6 linked regions of the Homo sapiens genome follow. The protein of the gene in region 6 purifies or fractionates together with the protein of the main gene of each other region. This does not show direct contact. Each region holds a gene or a part of one and is shown on either strand. Other genes may lie near its edges. The genes, in order: ATAD3C, KIF1A, XPO4, MGAT5B, KIAA1549 and PLEKHM3.

The links.
Region 1: the proteins of PLEKHM3 (region 6) and ATAD3C purify together in Homo sapiens (affinity purification with mass spectrometry; one large-scale study listed by BioGRID and IntAct). This does not show direct contact.
Region 2: the proteins of PLEKHM3 (region 6) and KIF1A purify together in Homo sapiens (affinity purification with mass spectrometry; one large-scale study listed by BioGRID and IntAct). This does not show direct contact.
Region 3: the proteins of PLEKHM3 (region 6) and XPO4 purify together in Homo sapiens (affinity purification with mass spectrometry; one large-scale study listed by BioGRID and IntAct). This does not show direct contact.
Region 4: the proteins of PLEKHM3 (region 6) and MGAT5B purify together in Homo sapiens (affinity purification with mass spectrometry; one large-scale study listed by BioGRID and IntAct). This does not show direct contact.
Region 5: the proteins of PLEKHM3 (region 6) and KIAA1549 purify together in Homo sapiens (affinity purification with mass spectrometry; one large-scale study listed by BioGRID and IntAct). This does not show direct contact.

The regions. Positions count from the first base shown.
Region 1 is NC_000001.11:1,466,689-1,470,663, reverse strand, and holds the end of ATAD3C (ATPase family AAA domain-containing protein 3C), read right to left. Parts: intron 2,281-3,975; coding exon 2,134-2,280; 3' UTR 501-2,133; downstream 1-500.
Region 2 is NC_000002.12:240,764,720-240,768,219, forward strand, and holds part of KIF1A (kinesin-like protein KIF1A), read right to left. Parts: intron 2,627-3,500; coding exon 2,547-2,626; intron 2,303-2,546; coding exon 2,196-2,302; intron 1,075-2,195; coding exon 991-1,074; intron 1-990.
Region 3 is NC_000013.11:20,780,747-20,784,246, reverse strand, and holds part of XPO4 (exportin-4), read left to right. Parts: intron 1-327; coding exon 328-525; 3' UTR 526-3,500. UniProt on the Homo sapiens protein: Mediates the nuclear export of proteins (cargos), such as EIF5A, SMAD3 and isoform M2 of PKM (PKM2). In the nucleus binds cooperatively to its cargo and to the GTPase Ran in its active GTP-bound form.
Region 4 is NC_000017.11:76,934,404-76,937,903, forward strand, and holds part of MGAT5B (alpha-1,6-mannosylglycoprotein 6-beta-N-acetylglucosaminyltransferase B), read left to right. Parts: intron 1-3,500. UniProt on the Homo sapiens protein: Glycosyltransferase that acts on alpha-linked mannose of N-glycans and O-mannosyl glycans.
Region 5 is NC_000007.14:138,971,390-138,974,889, forward strand, and holds part of KIAA1549 (UPF0606 protein KIAA1549), read right to left. Parts: intron 1-3,500. UniProt on the Homo sapiens protein: May play a role in photoreceptor function.
Region 6 is NC_000002.12:208,019,028-208,022,527, reverse strand, and holds part of PLEKHM3 (pleckstrin homology domain-containing family M member 3), read left to right. Parts: intron 1-1,839; exon of another isoform or gene 1,840-2,059; intron 2,060-3,500. UniProt on the Homo sapiens protein: Involved in skeletal muscle differentiation. May act as a scaffold protein for AKT1 during muscle differentiation.

The sequences.
Region 1 (3,975 bases), on a different chromosome or scaffold from region 6:
CCCGCGTCAGGAATAAGAACCCCTTCCCCTCCCTTGTCCAAGCGCTTGCCATTGCTCCATCTATGAGACCCCCCCTTCTATAGAAGTAAATTATCTAGCTGAGAAAACTTTATATTCGAGTTCTACTTCTTTGGTGGCACAGAAAATTTACATATAACACAGCTGCAGAGATCTCATCACTGCACTCCAGTCTGGGCGACAGTGAGACTCTGTCTCAAAAAAAAAAAAAAAAAAAAAAGCCAGAAAATGCCAGCCAGGCACAATGGCTCACACCCATAATCCCAGCACTTTGGGAGGCCGAGGTGGGCAGATCACCTGAAAACAGGAGTTTGAGACCAGCCTGGCCAACATGGTGAAACCCCCGTCTCTGCCAAAAATACAAAAATTAACCTGGGCATGGTGGCATGCGCCTGTAATCCCAGCTACTCCAGACGTTTAGGCATGAAAATTGCTTGAACCCTGTGTCATGTGCATCTGTGTGAAGAGACAACCAAACAGGCTTTGTGTGAGCAACAAGGCTGTTTATTTCACCTGGGTGCAGGCGGGCTGAGTTCAAAAAGAGAGTCAGCAAAGGGTGGTGGGATTATCACTAGTTCTTACAGGTTTTGGGATAGGCGGTGGAGTTAGGGACAATGTTTTGCGGGCAGGGGATGGATCTCACAAAGTACATTCTCAAGGGTGGGGAGAATGACAAAGAACCTTCTTAAGGGTGGGGGAGATTGCAAAGTACATTGATCAGCTAGGGTGGGGCAGAAACAAATCACAATGGTGGAATGTCATCAGTTAAGGCTCTTTTCACTTATTTTGTGGATCTTCAGTTGCTTCAGGCCATCTGGATGTATAAGTGCAGGTCACAGGAGATATGATGGCTTAGCTTGGGCCCAGAGGCCTGACACCCTGAAGGTGGAGGTTGCAGTGAGCCGAGATCACACCACTGCACTCCACCCTGGGCGAGCAAGACTCTATTGCCAAAAAAAAAAAAAAAACAGACCAGGCACGGTGGCTCAAGCCTGTAATCCCAACACTTTAGGAAGCCGAGGCAGGAGGATTGCTTGAGCCCAGGAGTTGGAGACCAGCCTGGGCAACAAAGGGACCCTGTCTCTACCCAAAAAAATAAGAGAGGAGAAAAACCAAATGAGTTCCCCAGCCATAGTCAGACGCCCCTGACCCCCACCCCCACCCCATGGCTGTAATCAAGGTTTTGGTTATTTAGAGGTACAGTCTCACTCTATCATCCAGGCTGGAGTGCAATGGTGCGATCTTGGCTCACTGCAACCTCTGCCTCCCATGCTCAGGCGATCCTCCTACCTCAGCCTCCAAGCCAAGAAGCTGGGACCACCGGCATGTGCCACCTGGCCCTTTTTTTTTTTTTTTTTTTAGAGGGAGTTTGACTCTTGTTGCCCATGCTGCAGTGCAATTCCATGGTCTCAGCTCAGTGCAACCTCCACTTCCCGGGCTCAAGTGATTCTCCTGCCTCAGCCTCCTGAGTACCTGGGATTTCAGGCACTTGCCACCACGGCCGGCTAATTTTTTTTTTTTTTTTTTTTTTTTTTTTTTTTTTTTTAGGAGAGATGGAGTTTCACCATGTTGGCCAGGCTGGTCTGGAACTCCCGACCTCAGGTGATCCACTCTCCTTGGCCTCGCTGAGATTCCAGGCGTGAGCCACCGCGCCCAGCCCCATCATCAAGGTTTGCAGGGACTAGCTGCAAAGCGCGGGCAGGGGCGGCATCTATTTGAAGCCGCTGTGTCTGTTTCGCGTGCACTTCCCTCCACCGTGTGTCTGGCCACAGGCAGCTCTGGCGGAGGGGAGGGAGGCGAAGGGGCACCCGCGTATGCACGGCCTCAGGATGGGGCACGGGCACCCGGCCCCGCCGTGGCAGCCACCTCCTGTGAAGCCCACCCCTCTGTGGTTAAATCCTCCAGAAAGCCCCAGCTTCTGCCTTTTCTGTCACCTTTGACCCCAGGGGGACGTTAGGGGGCCCCAAACCCCGCCCCGTGTCAGCCAATAGACACAGCGGTGCGGCCCCCGTGGGACTTTATTACGGGGAGTATTTCCTAAATGTGCGGGGCCGCAAAGGCAGGGGTGGGAGGGGTCCGCGGCCAGGCTCCGTGAGGTGTGGTCTCCCCATGGACTCAGGATGAGGGTTGCTCGTCCTCGGGCCCAGGCCTCTCCCCCTTCAGCCAGCGCATCATCTGCTGGTGCTGCTGGACAAAGTCTTGCACGCAGGCGTCCATCATGGCCTCGGTCAGGACCCCGTCCTTGGAGGCATACGCCGTGGCCTAGTGGGGAGAGAGGGAGCTGAGGGAGGCCGCCATGGGAACCCCCCACCCCAAATGCACGCCAGGGCCCTGAGGTGGGGAGGGACCAAACCAGGGGCTCCAGGATGGCCTGAGCGTGAAACACAGGCTACCCGCACCTCGGCAGAGCCCAGCACGTGTGTGGACACCGGGGGCAGCCCCTGCAGTGCCCACAGCCCTGCCTGCGTCCTCAGCACCAATGTTGCTCAATGACTTTCTAATAGAAAGCCCAAGGCGGAGCCTCACTGACGGCCGACCCAGGGCAGCTTCCCAGAGGCAGGTGGGAACTGCAGACCCTCTGCGTGTCTCAGCCGTGGTCAGGCAGTGCCCCCGGGTCATAGTGCACCTCAGACCCTCAGACCCTGACCCTCACAGGCCTCCAGGGCAGAGGCAGCCACTGCCCACCTTGAGGCACGTGGCTGGTGGCACCAAGGCCACCTCTGCCCCCACCTCCCTGTCCTCCTGGGCACAGGGCTTGGCATCTAGCATGTGAAGGCTGGAGCTGCTGGGGCTGTGGCCCTTGGTGTGGCTTCAGGCAGCCTCAGGTCCAGCCCTTCTGCCATGGACAGGTCACTCTCCATCCCAATGCCAGCAAAGGGCATGGAGTCCCCAAGGGGAGGCACCCATGGGTCAGGGTGAGGGTGTGGGGACCCCCACTGGGCGCCATGCTCAAGAGCGCACCAGGACGCCTGGAGGAAGCACAGGGCAGGGGACCCTTCCCGGACAGCTGAGCGGGTCCCTAGCCCCATCCCAGCTATGCCTCCCAGAGGCAGGATTCATCTCACGGGGTGCAGGGGCAGCAGCACACCATCCTCCCACAACACCGTCACCACGATAGAACCTGCCATGGGGATGACCACGTGGTGCCCGTCCCCTCTGCCAGCGCCCATCCCTCACCAAGAGCCACTGTGTGGGGAGACACTGACCGGAGCCGGACCACCACTGTGGGTCGGGGGCCCGGGAGCGCAGGAGACACTGACCGGAGCCGGACCGCCACTGTGGCTCAGGGGCCCAGGACTGCTCAACATCATTTTTGGTCTTGAGCCCACCCAAGAGAGGGCAAACAGGTGCAGGGACCCTCAGGGTCCACCCGAGTGGCTGCACCTCACCCAGGGCCCAGCAGAGGAAAGGGGGTGAGCAGATGCTCACGGAGCCACCCCTCCAGGAAGCACGGGACCTGGCAGGAGCCCACCAGAAGTGACAGCTAAATGTCACGTGGCCTCCTGGGTGGGATTCTGGGGCAAAACCTGGTCGCGGGTGGGTCCAACAGTGACACATGATGTTCACCACGTGGCAAGGTCCCAGGCCCAGGAAGTCTCTGTGCTACTCTTGCAACTTTTCTGGGAACCTAAAATCTTCAAACTATAAAAGTTGAAAGACAAGACCTGGACCTGATGTCTTCACATGTGAATTCACAAAACATTAAGAAGAATCAGTACCACTCCTCAAACTCTTGGACAAATTGAAGAACATTTCCTCACTCATCCTAAGAGGCCAGCATTACCCTCATATCAAAGCCAAAGACACCACAAGAAAAATGACATGCCAATATCCCTGATGAGCATCGTTGGAAAAGTCGTCAAGAAAATGCCAGCAAAACGAATTCAGGAGTATAATAAAAGGATTCCACACCCTGACCAAGCAGGATTTATTCCTGGAATGCAAGGACAGTTCAAC
Region 2 (3,500 bases), about 33 Mb from region 6:
GTGTGGAGGTTTCTGCACATGTGCTCCACACCTGCAATCAGCTGATGGAAATCAAGGAGGCCCCCAACGGTGGGGTGGGCCTCATCCAAGCAGGTGAAGACCTAAGAGCAAACTGGGGCTTCCTCTGAGGAAGAAGAAACCCAGCGGATGGAGTCCACTCCTGCCAAGTTCCCACCCTGCCCCGAGTTCCCAGCCTGCCCCGAGTTCCCAGCCTGCCCTGAGTTCCCAGACTGCCACCTGCCCATGGATTTCAAACTTCGCTGACCAGCCCCACCATCTGATAAGCCAATTCCTTGAAATAAATCTCTTTATACCTAGACATGGTTGTACGTTATCTCACTACATCTCGGTACATGTCTACAGCCATGTCTGTGCATCAGGCTGCTGCTGTTTCTCTGGCAGAACCCTAACTGCGTGGGCAATAGTCACACACCACTCAAGAGGGCCCCCTGTCTGACTGTCTGACTTCTCTAAAGAAGGGACTTTATGCCACGTGTGCCTGCACGTGTTTGAACATCACAGACACTGCAGTGTCTGGGAACAGAGCCCAACCCCACCCGGGGTGCTGCATTCAGAGACTGGAGCAGCCCACCCCACTGAGCTCCACAACACCTCAGCTCTGGGAAGCCCTTGTCCACTGCCCTGTATCCCCCAGACCAGCCCGACAGGGCAGAGTCCTGGGCCAGGAGGCAGGAGCTTCTTCCTAGGCAGGCACACCCTGGCTCCTCACTCAGCCCACAGCACGGACTCAGTGTCTCGGGGCCCCTGTGTTGTGTGAATGGGGCCTGTAGTGCTGTGTTCCTGGAGTTGGGGGACTGGGGAGGCACATGAGCTGCTTGGATACCCGCAGCCCCCTCCCCTACCTGCCCAGCGGCCCTTAAGAGCTGCCATCCCGCACAGTGCACAGGAGGCGGTGGCTTGGACATGGGAACAGAGGCCTCGCCTCATGCCTCTGCCTACCTGACTGGCCCCCGGAGTCCCCAGCCATACCTGAACGCAGGATGCTGGGCTCTGTGACTTTCTTGCCATTGACGTAGGTGTCTGCCCCCTCACAGGGCTCCAAGGTCACCACAGCTACAGGAAAGGTGGGAGGGGCAGAGAGGAGGACTATGAGGGGCTGTCACCTACAGCAGCTCGGCTTACCTGGCCCCCGGGCATGGCCTCTTCCAAGCCTCTCGCCTCTCTTTTCCCTGCTACACAGGCCGTGACCATTGGCAACACTCATTTGGGCCTCAGAGGAGCTTAGGGGTCTCACCCCACTTAACAGAGGAAGAAAGTGACCCCCAGAAGGAGGATGCATGTGCCCACGTTGAAGCCAAGAGGCTGTGCTGGGCCTAATCACCCAGGGCCCTGTCCAGCTCCCCAGGTGGACAAGGATAAAAACACCAGCTAATGGGGCCTGGGCCGTCCCACAGGAGAGGGTAGGCAGGGCTTTGCAGTCAGAGAATTCCAGGAGAGCCAATCGTCCCAACACCACTTAGGGCCATCACCCTGAGGTGGCCAAGTTGGACAGTGGGTGTCAGTCACAGGTCTGCAGGCCAGAGGCTGGCTGGATGCTGCCGGGAGATGCCCTTAGCCTGGGCTGTGGGCCATGTGACGGCACACTGACACCACAGGCCCATCCCCAAGTTGGGCAGCACCAGGCAATGGGGACAGCCCCACGTCATCTCCAGGAGGGAGACCACTGGGCAGGCAGGGGAAACGGACAGATGGCCGCCCACAGCCAACAGGAAACCAAGGTCTGGAAATAGTTTTCCACCCTAGATCTGGGCTCAATCCTCATGGCTCACTGTCCTCCCGCCATGAACATCCTCCACCCTGGGCCCCAACACGCTTCCCGGCCAGCAGCCCACCTGTGCCCCCACCTCCAGCCCTCAAGGAGGCTCAGCTCCCTAAGGCAGCAGCTACCCCTGGCCACAGAAAGTACCAGGCATTTTCCCAAGCACCAACCTAATGGAAGTTGTTTTTAAGGCTGGCCCCAAATATCTCTCTCTCTCTCCAAATCTCTCTCTCTCTCTCTCTCTCTCTCTCACACACACACACACACACACACACACACACACACACGTCCTGCCTAGAAGTATGACTCGCGACCCACTTAGTGCTGGGTAAGCTGGGAGAGGGTGACCTCATTCAGGCCTGATCATCACGGCACAGGGGCATGGGTGCGGGTAGGGACGGTAGGGTGGTGATACCTTCGCTGCCTCCCCTGGAGTCGCTCCGGAAGACGCAGTGCTCCTCCTTGATGAAGTGCCCACTCAGAACAATGTCCTGCCGCCTCTCGCCATCCTCCCTGCCCACTCTGCGGGGTGGGGGCACCATCAGCACGGCAGCTGGGACCCAATACACCCAGGACGCCACCCACTGGCCTCCAGGGACGCCCAACCAGGATTGTTTGGGAAACACCCAGCGCAGACATCAGTGGGGTCGCTGGGGAAGTCCAAACTCAGTGGCCCCTCTGCAGAAGCAGGAATGGGGAGTCCAGCCTTCCCCTGCCAGATCCCAGGGCCTGGCCAGGCTGGAGTGGCTGCCAGGTCCCCTCTCACCTGGTGATCCCATCCTTGATGTAGTAGAGCAGGCACTCAGACATCAGCGGGTCCTCGTTCAGGTTGACGAGGTGTGGTGTCTGCAGGGAGACAGGAGGATCATCTCTCTTGCAGAGGGGCAGGAGCCTGATGCTGGCCACACCCCCCTCCAACCTCTCTCCAGGCACCAGACTACCACCAGGGTCCCTGCCCCCGCACTTGGCTGGTGCCACCAGGCTGGTCACTCCAAGCCAGGAAAATGAGGAACACAGAAAGCTCAAGCCGAAGGCCCAGCCCACCAACAGCAGCAGGCCGGTGGGACCCGACCACCCGCATACACCCAAGCCTGGCACAGCAGCCCCAGCACTGCAGCAGAAGCTGAGCTTCCAGAAGGGCAGACAGCCCCAGCTCTCAGCATGTGGGGGCCCTGGGGCCCTCTGAGGCTGGGGTGAGCCCCCAGATGTGCAGACCACAGGCTTTGTCCCATGGGGTCCTGGGTTCCCAGCTTTGGACTGTAAAATGGGGTTCTAGGACCCCATTCCAGCTCAGACAGCCCAGAAACCATGGGTTCACCAGTGGGAGCCAAGAGCCAAGAAGGATCAGGACACTGACCATGGAGGGCTCAGCCCTGGAGTCTGGGGAGTGAAGCAGTTGTGAAGGGATCCTTGATGAGCCACCTGAGGCACCCCCATGCAGAGAGGTGGAGACCTCGTCACTGGACGAAGGGGACAGACCATCCCCAGCTGTCCCTGCCCCCTGAGTGGGGAAGATGTCCAGCCAGGAGGGGCTGTGCCCACAGCTTTGGGGCTGAGTAGGGGCTACAGCCTTGGGACCCCACTGGCCTGTGCACGTCTCGTGATTCCCAAGAACACTGAACTTCTCAAGAAGGGGGTCCCCAGTGGTCCCACTTCTGGGCAGTGCCCAGACCCAGGGCAACCAATAAAGCTGCACCCCTGGAGTTCCACCCTATCCCTC
Region 3 (3,500 bases), on a different chromosome or scaffold from region 6:
AGTTGATTATCACATGGGTCTTGGGGCTAGATTGGTGGACTCTTGCTTGATCTGGGCCATATCACTTCACCTCACTGAGTGTCGAAACCTTCACCTCTGGAATGGGAATAGAAACAGTACCTGTCTCGAAGCATTGTTGTAAATGATAGATGAATTAATCCATGTAAAAGGTTTTCAAACAGTAGTACTTAAATGCTGAATTATTCTAAATGTTAACTCTTAAAAATGTGTCCCTGCCTTTTAGAACCCCACAGTCCAGTAACTGATAAGATCTACTTGTATGATATTCTAAGGAGGATACTTGTGTATACTTTATCTCTTCAATAGGCTGAATATTCTGAACTGGTCGAAACATTACTATCAAGTCAGCAAGACCCAGTTATTTACCAGAGATTAGCAGATGCCTTCAACAAGCTCACTGCAAGCAGCACTCCTCCTACGCTGGATCGGAAGCAGAAGATGGCCTTCTTAAAGAGTTTAGAAGAATTTATGGCAAATGTTGGTGGTCTCCTTTGTGTAAAATAAACAACAGAACTTTATGCTTAATTTAGATCCTTTCTGCAAAGTGCACTGAATTGCTGAAAGTTGACTTGAGTCTTGTCCTATTCCTCAGTTCATTTGGCCATTTTGGATTTTGGAGAGCCTGAAACTTTGATATGTATGTAATACAGTGAAACAGGAGAGGTCAACTTGGCATCAGCTTCTGCTGTTAAGTGTTAGCCACAATCTGTCATATATATGTCTTTTAGATTCTGAATGGTGATTTAAAATTTTCAAAATGAAATTCCATATATGTGCAAACAGATATGGGCACCACGAAATACATATGCAGTGCCTTTTTTCCTTTTAACATAGGTGGCTAGCCAAAGTTTAGAATTTTTGTCATTAAATATGAAATGGATATATGCTAGGCAGTGTTTCTCAAAATCTCCATAGATCGCCTGCATCACTTGAGGAGCTGGTGAAAAGGCAGATTCTTAGGCCCAACTGTAGACCTTCAGAGTCAGAATGTCTGGTTGTTGGGCCCAGGAGTCTTCATGTTAATAAGCTTCTCCCTTTCGTCACCCCAAAAGTTTTGAATCAATGAAAGAGACATTGAAAACTCTTAAGAGGTTTTGTGCTTTCTAGCTTTTCCTCCCTTTGATGATTGGGTTTTATAATTCAGCAGGAAGGGGAAACATCACCAGGGGTTTGTTGGCTTTTTCTTAGCTTGCTTTCTTGCTTGCTTGCTTTCTTGCTTTTCTTGCTTTCTGTCTCTCTCTTTCTTTTCTCTCTCTCTCTCACATCAACCCAGTGCTGCAGGTTTTGTGTAATACAAGTCACTAATCATACTCTGATGCCTGAACTTGAGGAGGAAAATACATGTATATTTTTGTTCCGTAAAAATAACCTTAGGAACTGTAGCCATTTCATTGCCTTAATTTTAAGAGGAAAATACAAAAACAGCTGATTTGTTTTAGTAAGAAACCACGTCTTGATGCTTCAGAGTTGGTTTAGGGTGTTAGCTGCTATGAACCTGTTGCCCCTTTCGATCGTGTATTTATGTAGGTTTATCAGTGAAATGAAAGGCTTGTTTCCGTCTAGTCTAACTTTTTGAGTGTGTTTCTATCCAGCCACATAGCCCATATCTACTCTAAATGGCTTGCTTAAGCAATAATTATTTTAAAGGATGTGAATCACTGATTCACACAGACTATTGCACGTTGGGGCATTAGGGGCAATAATTCTTATCCAGACATGGGAGCCAGTGAATTTAATTTCAGAGATTAAAAATTCACTTTAGATCCTCTAGTTTGATCTCTTAATCAGGATTTTTATACAGCTGCCAGGCTCCCCTAATTCAGTGTGCCAGCTTACAATGTGGAAATGAAAGCTAATTTATACACAGCAGGCATATGAAACTCCACTCATTGCAGTACTTTCACAGCACAGTGACAGGTAGAGGACTCTGGCACAGGTGCACTCATGAAACTCTGCTTCCACCATGTTCCTGACACCTATCTATTAAACCATTCTGCAAATACGGTTTTTCTACCTGATTGCATATAGCATATGTGTCATTACATGTGATGCTGTGCAAAACTTTGTATAATTCTGTGTTATTAACAGTTAACAAAACTGGAGCATCTGAATTACATCCAACCTGTGCATGTGATGTTAGGTAGATGTGAATGCAGGGCCTTGGGCCATAACTTACATTTCTCTCAATTTGATTAGCTTTGAGTCACAATTAAGGGGAAGCAAAAACATCTTGAAAAGACTGCTAGGAAGGAAATTAATATCAGTCATCCAGAAGTACACGTTTCTGTATTTTAAAAAATACTTTGATGCATTTATTTTTAGGTGTTTTTTTTTTCCCCTTAAAAAACTTGAAGTGATATGCAGCAGTAATCTATTTGTTTTGCATTGTTCTTGGTGTTTTGTGTTTCCCAGATCCCTCAAGCTTTCTCAGCTGTTGTGAATTATGTGTATCTGTGTGTGTGCTAAGTACAGTCTCTTTACCAAAGGGCACTGAAACACACAATTGACTGGACAGGTCCACGCGCCATGACAAAACTATAATCAAGTTATTAAAACTAAAGAGGAGTGGGAAAGGAATGCCTTGGTAAGTAAAAAGGCATCTATATTTAATAACTTTTATCCAGATGGCAACATATTTGCAAAATTTGCCCAGATCCTATTACAATACTAAAAATAGAAAATTTCACCTCCATATTCCTGAGGTGTAATTTCATTAGACTAGTTTTAGTTTAAAAAGACCTTCTTCAGATTGGACCAAATAATACTTATAAGATCAGCAGAATGTTGAATATTAGCTCACTGGGGTGGGGAGAAGCCACTACCATTTTTTAGGTGATGGGGATGCCACTGAGTTGCAACGGCTAGACCTTTTCAGGGTGGTTGTGTCCATGTTTGCCTGATTGGATGCTTATTCACTTTGTGTTTTCTTTTGTTTTATTTTGTCCAATTTTGTCTTTAGCTGTGTTTATTAACTTCTCCGGTCTTGTTTTGTTTTAATGCTCTTGGCCCAGTGGGTGTCAAGAACACTGGCTTAATTCAAGTCAGTTGATTTTTTTTCTATTAAAACTGTTGTTAAAATATTTTTTAAAACAAAAACATTATTTGTGCCCTCTTTTATATATGTCAAAGGGACACTGTCAAGTATTTCATTTTTAGATTTTTGTTTTATAAAATTTCTGTTGTTCATATAGTATCCTTTAACCTCTAGTTTTCCATACATCCTTTGTTTGTTTCTCATTTTATTTTCCTTGACCCATTTATTTCCCAAGGCACAATCACTAAAGACTTTGTACTTTCACAGTCTGTTAATGTGGTAGCACCTGTAACTGTGTTCTTGTTCTGTTAAAAGGATTGATTTGCTTTTATAGTCCTTGTGCTGGATGAGTGGCTGCCTCAGTAGCAAAACTACCTGACAGTATTTGACAGTGTCCTTTCCAGCACCATTATTTGGGTCTTTCAGGGTGGCCATCTCTGTTAGA
Region 4 (3,500 bases), on a different chromosome or scaffold from region 6:
CAGCCTGTTCAGCATTATGAAGCCTTGGAGAATGGCAGAGAGAAGGCTTGAAAGCAGGAATCAAGGTCCAAGACCTCTGCTGAGATGTCAGAGGTCACTGTGGGGTGTGGAGCGGGGAGCTGGGAGATGAGGCTCCCCATGCCGATTGCCACAGCTGCAGGGAAGCCCGGGAAGCTGTGGGCACTGGGTGCTGGAGAAGAGGGCAGAGTCGGAGGGTCGTGGAACACACAGGGTCTACTTTTATCAGAAAATGCTGTTAAGAAACTGGCCCAAGAGAATGAGAGGTTATGAAGTCTGGAAAGAGAAACGTTTTATCTCTAGCGCTGGAACTTCTGTGATAGCCCGAGGCAATCCTGTTCAGCTAGAGACCTCAAAGAAACTGCTTCCAAAAAAAGACATCTTTGCCCTGGTGTTTGTAACCAAAGGAAGTCAGAGGTGGCTGGATGGAGAGAAAAATGAAAGCAGCATCTTGGGAGAGATGCCTTCCAGAGTACAGGGGATCAGGTGGCCGAGAAGCAGAGGAGGAAGGAGGGGAGATGGAAGGTCAGGTCATTTATCATCCTTCCAGGGAGCAGGAGCTGGGGACCCAGGGCAAGGCGTTGGGTGAACTTTGTGCTAAGCGGGTCTGTCTTATTCTGCATTCCCCAGAAAGTGGAGCCTGAGGCTAAGGCTTAGGTGCTATTTTAGTAGAGTGTAGTCCCAGGAAGCGAGGGGTGAAGGATCAAGGGAATGAAGCAGGAAGGAGGCAAAGGCAGCTGGTTCAGGCCCGGGGCAAACCCACCCTCATCCCTGGAGGAAACATTCCAGGCCCTCAGACAGTCATCTGGGTGAGCTTGGGTGGAACTTTTCAATCCGTAGGTGGCAACCCATGGATAAATTGTGAAGCCAACTCAGGGAGTCTTGACTAGCCTTTTTGGTTCGTGTACAATTTTTTGTAGAAACATATGCTTTCATTTCTCCTGGGTAAATGCCCAAGAATATAATGGCTGGTTAATACTGTAGAAGTGTGTTTAACTTTTTTTAAAAGTTATTACGAGGCTTTCAATTCTTGAACAAATTCATCAATGCTTGGGATGGTCAGTCTTGTAAATTTCAGCCGTTCTAACAGGCATGGAATGGTGTCTTCTTGTGGTTTAAACTAGCATTTTCCTAATGACTAATGATGAAGATATTTTTGTGTGTTTATTTGTCTTCCATATATCTTTTTTTTTTTTTTTTTGGTGATGTGTCTTTTTAAAAACTTTTGCCCATTGAAAATATTAGGTTGTTTATTTTCTTACTATGGAGTTGTTAGAGTTCTTTATATATCCTGGATCCAAGTCTCGTATCAAATATATGCTTTATAAATATTTTCTTCTAGTCTGTGGCTTGTCTCTCTCTTTTTAAACATATATATATTATATATATTATATAATTATATATACTATATATTATATACATTATATATACTATATATATTATATACATTATATATATTATATATTATATAATTATATATACATTATATATATTATATATTATATAATTATATATACTATATATTATATACATTATATATATATATATGTAGATAGAGACAGAGAGACGGGGTCTCATTATGTTGCCCATTCGGGTCGCAAACTCCTGGGCTCAAGCGATCCTCCCGCCTCAGCCTCTCAAAGTGCTGGGTTACAGGCATGAGCCACTGCGCCTGGCCTTGTCTTTCTCTTAACAGTGTCTTTCAGCCGGGAACGGTGGCTCACGCCTGTAATCTCAGAACTTTGGGAGGCCATGGCGGGGTGGATCCCGAGGTCAGGAGATTGAGATCAGCTTGACTAACAAGGTGAAATCCCATCTCTACTAAAAATACAAAAGATTAGCCACGTGTGGTGGCGTGCGCCCGTAGTCCCAGCTACTCAGGAGGCTGAGGCAGGAGAATTGTTTGAACCTGGGAGGCGGAGGTTGCAGTGAGTCGAGATCGCACCACTGCACTCCAGCCTGGGCGACAGAGGGAGACTCTGTCCCAAAAACAAACAAACAAAACAATGTCTTTCAAAGAGAAAAGTTCTTAATTTTAATGAAGTCCAGTGTTTTCTTTTAGGGATTGTGCTTTTGGTGTTGTATTTAAGAAATCTTTGTCTAACCCAAGGTTACAAAGATTTCTTTCCTGTTTTTTTGTATAAGTTTTATAGTTTTAGGTTTTGCATTTAAGTCTGTGATCCATTTTGCATGAACTTTTACATATAATAAGTAAAAAGTTCTTTTACGTTTTTGCGTGTAGATATCATGTTTCATGACCATTTACTGATGAAACCATCCTTCCTCCACTGAAATGTTTTGCACCTTTGTCGAAAATCAGTTGACCACACTGTGTGTGGGTCTATTTCTGGAGTCTGTATTCTGTTCCATTGATCTGTTTGTCTATCTTGATGCCAATACCACACTATCTGGATTACTGTAGCTTTATAAGAAGTCTTGACATCGGTAATATAAGCCTGCTAACTGTGTTCTTTTTCAAAGTTGTTTTGTCTATTCTAGGTTCTTTGCATTTCCAAATGAGTTTTAGAATCAGCTTATCAATTTCTACAAAAAAGTACTGGGAGTTTGATTGGGATTTCAATGTTTTTTTTTTTTTTTGAGTTCTGGAAAATGAATATGAAAAATTGTAGAGATAATTTAAGATCAAGGATGACTCTATTTTACTCCAGAGAGAATTTACTTTTACTCTTGGCTTATAGCTGGGGGCCCTAGCAATCTCGGATCACCTTGATCAATATGGTGATTAAGACAAAATGGATTCAGCCCCTGCAAGGACTGGTCTAGCTCTGTTTCATCCTTTTCTCTAGGGTGGAATTCCTCTGAGTTCTAATTCCAAATATGGAGCTTCCATCAGAGGTCCCCCTCCTTCAGTGAAAGAAGGGATGGGCAGATAAGATGGATGAATGAGAGGATGGATGGATAGATGGATGAGTCGATGGGTGGATGGGTGAGTGGAGGGATGTGTGAGAGGGATGGATGGATGAATGGGTGGGTGGATGAGTGGATGGGTGGATGTTTGAGAGGGATGGATGGGTGAATGGATGGATGGGTGGGTGGACGCATAGAGTTATGGGCAGGTGGACAAATGGATGGATGGATGGATGCATGGATGGTGGGTGCATGGATGGATGGTGGGTGCATGGATGGATGGTGGGTAGATGGATGGATAGGATGGATGGGATGGGTGAGAGAGAGAGATGGATGAATGGACTACAGAGAGCTCCACAGCTCCTCAGAGGAGCTTAGAGGTCATTAGGGGTTCAGCAGATGCCAAGTGGCACCACGTGAATCCATTTAAATGTTGGTCCCCATAGGGTTCCTTTGGAAAGAAAACAGTTTCATGGCTAAAAGTAATCCTGAAGCCTCTGCTCTAGTCCAATCTCTGCCATTCATAGGTTTTCAGGGCCAGAGAGGGGCGGGGCCTTTCCCAGTGTCCCACAGCCAGTTAATGGCCAACCTGAGACTGGGTCCACATCTTCTGA
Region 5 (3,500 bases), on a different chromosome or scaffold from region 6:
CTCAAATGAATGCCTCCACTCTTGCCCTAGATCCCATCCCTTCCAAGCCCCCAGGAGCTTTCACTCCTGCCCTCTCTGCCTCCCTTTCCAACCCCACCCCAGACTGGCTTCTTCCTAGCCCTCACCTGCACAGATGGCCTCCACCTTACCACTCCCTCTTCCTACGTTATTTCACTCCTTGCACACACACAGCACCCTTCATGCCGCAGAAGCTGGCCCTCTGAGGGGCTGGGTCCTACCCAGTCAGCGGCTGTCACAACAAAACCCACCCCCTAGGGTTGAGAAACCGTCTTACAGCTGGACCTCAACCTCGAGAGGGCAAAACTCAGCCTCCAAATCACATCACTTCCCTTCTCTTGCTGGAAAGATCTTCTCGGTCCCTTTCAGTACCAATATGTGGAATATTCTGCACCTTCCATGCCCATTTTCCCACATCCTAGACACCCAACTCCTGCCCTGTACACCTGCTATCTGAGCACACAGGCTTTGACTCAGACGTGGAGCGTAATGAAAACCATGGGGGCCACTGCAGACAGTCAAGCAAGGAGGAAGGGACGTGACCTGTTCCTAGCAGGCCCTTCCTGCTGAAGGTGGAGGATGAACTGGAGGAAGTGAGAGGAGAAGTAGAGGTCGTGACAGTCACCTGGAGAAAAGAGGATGGGAGCTTGAATGAGGGCAGTGGTGGCAGCGATGGTACAGCAGAAACATTCAAGACGGACTTCCTCCCCTCCCATTCACAGTCCTCTGGGAACTTTCTTTCACTCACTGAGGGGCTGGTGCCTGGCTCACAGTCCTTTCTTCCTCTCTCCAGGCAAGTTCAACATCCACAGAAGTTATTCACCCCAAAGCCTTCCTCCATGTTCCACTTCAACAACTCATTCCCACCACTACACCCTACCCTGTTCATTACCCAAGACCAAAACTAGAGATGACCCACTTCTGAAACTCGGCACAATGACACCCCAATCCCTCCCGCCCTCCCCCACCTCTCTCTCAACACCTGCCCTGGGATCTCAGCTGCACCCCCTCCTCCCAGTCCCTTTCCCACTGCTCCAGCCACGGTTCACCTCCTACCTCATCCAGACCACCTCTTGCCAGCTCCTTCAATCCCCTTTGGCTCTTCACACCTGCCCTGTGATTCCCCATCCCTGACTCGGGCCAATGGCTCACCTTTCCCAGACACACTGGAACGTCAAGTGCTAGAGGACAAAAATCACACGGTGGGTTCCCTAACATCACCACAGATACCCCCATTACCTTGGACTTCACTCCCAACCTTCCACCAGTCCCTCCGATTCCTTCTCCCAACATTACTTCTTCCTAACTCTTCTTAGGGTGGTCCTGCCTGCCCAGGTGAACCTCCTCACTTTTGGTAAATTAGCCATGAGGTCCTTCCTTCTACTTCCTTAAATTGTCAACCACTGCTTTTGTTTTGTTTTGTTTTGTTTTTGAGATAGAGTGTCGCTCTGTCACCCAGGCTGGAGTAAAGTGGCACAATCTCAGCTCACTGTAACATCCGCCTCCCAGATTCAAGTGATTCTCATGCCTCAGCCCCCCGAATAGCTAGGATTGCAGGCACCCGCCACCACACCTGGCTAATTTTTGTATTTTTAGTAATGGCGGGTTTTCACCATGTTGGCCAGGCTGGTCTCAAACTCCTAACCTCAAGTGAACTGCCTGCCTGGGCCTCCCAAAGTGCTGGGATTACAGGCATGAGCCACCGCGCCCAGCCCAGTCACTGTATTTTTACTGACTCTTGAAGCCTACAAACACAATCAAGTCTAAAACATGTTTTTAAAACTTCCACCAACCCTCCTGCCACCATTAAGTTATAGGGAATAACTCAAACCTCACCAGGCCTAAGAATAACATAAAGAGCTTGTGGAACATTTCAAAAATACAAATCCTCAGGCATCACCTGTTTCAGTAGAGCTGGCTTGACCATGAGTTGGGTTTTTAACAGGTGATTCTGATCAGTTGGCCCTCATCCCATCCTTCAAGAAACAGTTTGGTACAGTAGCATTTGACATGATGGATCACTCACCTAGAGGAAAACTCTCTCCTCCTCTCCTGGCTCTCATATCACTATTTTGTCATGATGGTCAGTTCCTCTGTATGCTCCTCTTTGTCTTCCCCTCTCCTTCACGCTAGTTTCAGGGTTTCTGTCCTCAGCTGCCTTGTCTACTAACTCTCCATGCTCCCCCCTCACTAGTGTCTTCCATATCTATGACTTCAACTACCATCAAGTACAACATTTAACAAGCTTTTTTTTTGTTTTAAGTTCTTGCTCTATCACCCAGGCTGGAGTGCAGTGGCACAATCCCAGCCCACTGCAGCCTCAACCTGCTGGGCTCAAGCAATCCTCCTGCCTCAGCCTCCCGAATAGCTGAGACTACAGGTGCATGCCACCATGCCCAACTAATTTTTGTACTTTTGTAGAAACAAGGTCTCACTATGTTACCCAGGCTGGTCTTAAACTCCTGAGCTCAAGCAATCCTCCCGCCTTGGGCTTCCAAAGTGCTAGGAACACAGGCGTGAGCCACCGCACCCAGCCTAACTTTTTTTCTAAGTACTGGATCTGGGATAGATTAAAAATCAATGAATGAATGTACAGGTGATAGTCAACACAGTTAACAGCAGTGGAGCACGAGCACTGACAGTCGGAAAGGGAGCTATTCTAATTTTACAGGTAAAGGATCTGAACAGACATTTCTCAAAAGAGACACACAAATGGTCAACAGGTAAAGAAAAATTGCTCAGCATCCCTAATCATTAGGGAAATGCAAATTAAAACCACAATGAGATAGCACCTCAAACCTGCCAGAATGGTCTTCAGCCAAAAAACTAAAGCAGAGTCCTTGAGGCACCTGCTGTGCTGAGCATTAACCCTTCAGTCACTGGATCTCGGTGAGGTGGAGGGTGGCGGTGGTCCTTGGGAGAAGAGTCCTGAAAGAGGGCAGGGAGGCTCAGGGTACTTGGGGGTGGGGAGCAAGGAATATTCAGTACAGCAGCTATTTACCAACTGCTATGGTAGTATCTCAGTGGTTTGGTTTTGTTTTTTGAGACAGAGTCTCATTTTGTTGCCCAGACTGCAGTGCAGTGGCGCGATCTCAGCTCACCGCAACCTTTGCCTCCCGGGTTCAAGCCTCAGCCTCCTGAGTAGCTGGGATTACAGGCACCCACTACCATGCCTGGCTATTTTTTTGTGTTTTTAGTAGAGACGAGGTTTCACTATGTTGGCCAGGCTGGTCTCGAACTCCTGGCCTCAGGTGACCCACCTGCCTCAGCCTCCCAAAGTGCTGGGATTATAAGCGTGAGCCACCACATCCAGACTGTATCTCAGTGTTTTTACAACCAGTCAAATGCTCGCAATGAATGAAAACAGCAGGTCTAGGGGACAATTCTAATCTAGTTGCCTGGTCAAATAAAATATGGTTCTTGCACACTATTTACACAGACTCAGTCCCAAAAGCAGGTGTCTCTCAAGGTCTCTGGAGATT
Region 6 (3,500 bases):
AGCCACAAGGAACTAGATTCTGTCAACAATCCCAATAAGCTTATAACTGGATTCTTTACCTGAGTTTCTATTAATAGATAAGAGCCCAGCCTGGCCACCACCTTGGTTTCAGCCTTGTGTGAGAGACTCTGAGCAGAAAACCCAGCCAAGCCCATCCAGTCTTCTGACCTTCAGAACTGTGAGAAAATGAATAGGTGTTGTTTTAAGCTACTTAAGTTTGTAGAAATTTGTTATGCAACCATAGAAAACTAATACAGAAAGAAAAATTGAAACAATAGCAAAGTATCATTTTTTCCAAATCTCAAATTAACATAAATTTTCAAAAATCCTCCTCAACAGTTAGTGTGCAGTGCAGCAGACACTTGCAAATGCTAGGAGGGATGCACACTTGCTGTAACCTTTCCGAACAGCTCATTGGTGAATGTATGAAAAGCCTCAATGATGCTCCTACCTTTTGACCCAGTTAATTCCACTTCTAGGGTCCATCCAAAGGAATTTATCAGAAATATTTTAAAAGTTAATGTTCAAAGATGCTCAATATAACTTTATTTAGGAAAAAACATATGTAATAACCTAAATGCCCCAAAATGGGAACAAATTATGGTGTCATCAATAGATACAGTGTTATATAGACACTAAAAAGGATTTTTTAATGAAGAAGTTTAGCAGTGTGGAAAGGTGTTACCAATGATTGCTAGGTGGGGAAAAATGCGTATCTATAGTAAGCTCTGAACTATGTTTAAAAAAACAAAATCTACATAAGGGCTGAAAGGGCCACAACGGGGCAGTGCTTTTTTCCAGTGGAGGGTGAATAGGCATTGTTTATTTTGCCTTTTATTCTCTTTCGTATTTTCAAAATGACAAGCAATGAACATGTAGTACTTATTTATAATCACAAAAGTCAATAAACATTATTTTAAAAGCTGTTAAGTCTCTACATTGTGGGGAATACAATGACTATAAAACATTGTACAGTCAAATACTGGAGATAATAAAATCCATAAATAATGTAATTATGTGGCAGAAAGTGATTTTTTAAAGAAAACAAGATATAGAAAACAAATTATAATTGAAAAGATTGAAAATAAAGTTGGAAACTTATTTCTCAGTAGGGTAATAAGTGAAAGCTTCATGGTAGAAGGATCGCTGAATGTCATATAGAAGTAATAGAAAAAGGAGGCACATGGCTGAATGTTCATTAAAAGTATTTGTTTTCTCATAGATTGATGGATTTAGGTTTTGGGCTATGGACCCAGGTTAATTATACTAGTGGAAAACAACTGTGAAGAATATGTAACCATTTACAGAAAAAAATGGTGCCTGATTAGGAAAACCAAGCTGGTTCTAGCCCAGTAACATCTTCATTAAAAAACATCCAAGGCTGATATTTACTGAATATTTATGAGATACTTGACATACTCTATTACAGTTTAATCTTGTATATAGCCTTTGCTTAAGACTTGAAGTCATTCATTTACATATTTAAAAAGTAGGCAGATAGACAGGTGCTAATTTAATTACTAGTTTCAAAAGGCCTGACTTTAATGGGAACTTGGAGAAGGTTAGACTGGGCAGTTTTTTTAGGATTCTTTATCTCTAGTCAGTTTCCAGCAGCATCAAGCTACTGCTGCTGTTACTTTTATTTTCCCATTGTCACCCTATCCTATTTCACCTCACCCTCTCCTCCAACACCCCTAGAAAAGTACAGAGAGTGTCTGTGGCCCCATTGGTTGCTGGCCAAAGGCTGATTTGCTTCAGCAAATGTTAACCCCTTAAAATAAAAAGTCTGGAGGGATATCTAGCAAGGAGTTTTTTTTTCTTCTTGCGTTCTCCTTTCAGAGTACATTTGGCATTTGGTTCATAAGGAACTGAACTACATCCTAGCTTGGAGTTTCTGATGCAAGCCAATTAATTCAGAGAACTCAGTGCTGAGTGAGAGCGTGATAAAAATGACCACCAGCAATAAATTCCATGCATTATGTTTGCTCTGTTTCATTGGCTACTGTGGGATCATACCAGACATTGAAAAACATGCATAATTTGCCTTCCTGCTGACAAGGTAAAAGTTTTATTTGTTCCATAAGTAATTAATCTTGATGACAGTATGAGTTATGAGCAAAAACCAAAGTCAAAATATGGAGGCAATTGCATTAAGATGTCAGGCATGCTGTTTTCATTAACATTTTGTTTGTTTTCGTACACTCATTAATTGTTAATCTGAGTTATGTGGTTCAAATAGAATCCTTCAATTATATGCCACATTTATGACCATGGTAGAGATTTACTTATCCAGTTCTCCTGACTAGTGTAACCAGTTTATAATTCAGTACAAACTAAAGCTCTTCTGTCTCGCATTAGCCAGTTTACCTGTGAATACTTACGTAACTGGGAAATTGTTAAATATCCACTTCACCTTGTGTTCTGTAGGTGTGATTATATAAATGTTGATTTTTCAGTCACAGAACAAAAAACATGTGTTGCAGGTTAGAAACATCAGAAATATAACTAGCAGATTTTTTGCTCCAGGAAATTAGCTGAATGATCTCCTCCTACATGCTCTTGATCCACTTTTACCTGCACTATAACATTTCCAGAACAACTTCTCTTCCACGTTCAGGGATTCATTAATTTGTTAATTCAGCAAGTAAGGATTGAGCACTTGTTTTGTGCCATGGCACAGTACTTGGAGCTAGGAATGAACAAGACAGGCACAGTCCATGCCTTCATGAAGCTTACAGTCTAGTGAGGGAGACAGACAGTAAACAGGCCATTTGAAAATAACTTGCGTGCTCACTTTGGCAGCACATACATTAAAACTGGAACAACACAGAGATTAGCATGGCTTCTGTGCAGGGATGACATGCAAATTTGTGAAGAGCTCTTTCAGATAATGTTAAGATGTATATGGTTTATACAAATGGTAAAAAATTATAAAGTTAAAAAAATAGCTTGAGATGCATAATAATGGAGGAAATCTGGGTGCTATGGGAGCATATAAGAGGCCATTCAAAATGGACCTGGAGGTCAAGAGAGATGTGATTCCTCGTCAAGGACTGGACAGCTGAATTAGACTTAGCCAGGTTGTGTGTGTGGGTGGGAGGTAAGGAGGGGACAGTGTTGATAAAGAAGATGAGGGTGATGGTGGTGGAAAACAGTGTTCCAGGCAGAGGAAACAGGATAGGTGAGAAAGCAAGTGGAAAATTCCAGGTTTGGTTTTGTTTTCAGACAGGGTCTTGTTCTGTTGCCCAGGCTGGAGTGCAGTGGTGTGATCATAGCTCACTGCAGCCTCAAACTCCTGAGCCCAAGCGATCCTCCTACCTCAGCCTACTGCATAGCTAGGACTATAGGTTCACGCCCCCATGCCTGGTTAACTTTAAATTTTTTTTTTTTGTAGAGATGGGGGTCTCACTATGTTGCTCAGGATGGTCTTGAACCCCTAGCCTCCAGCAGTCCTCCCATCTTGACCTCCCAAAGTGCTGGGATTACAGGTGTGAGCCACC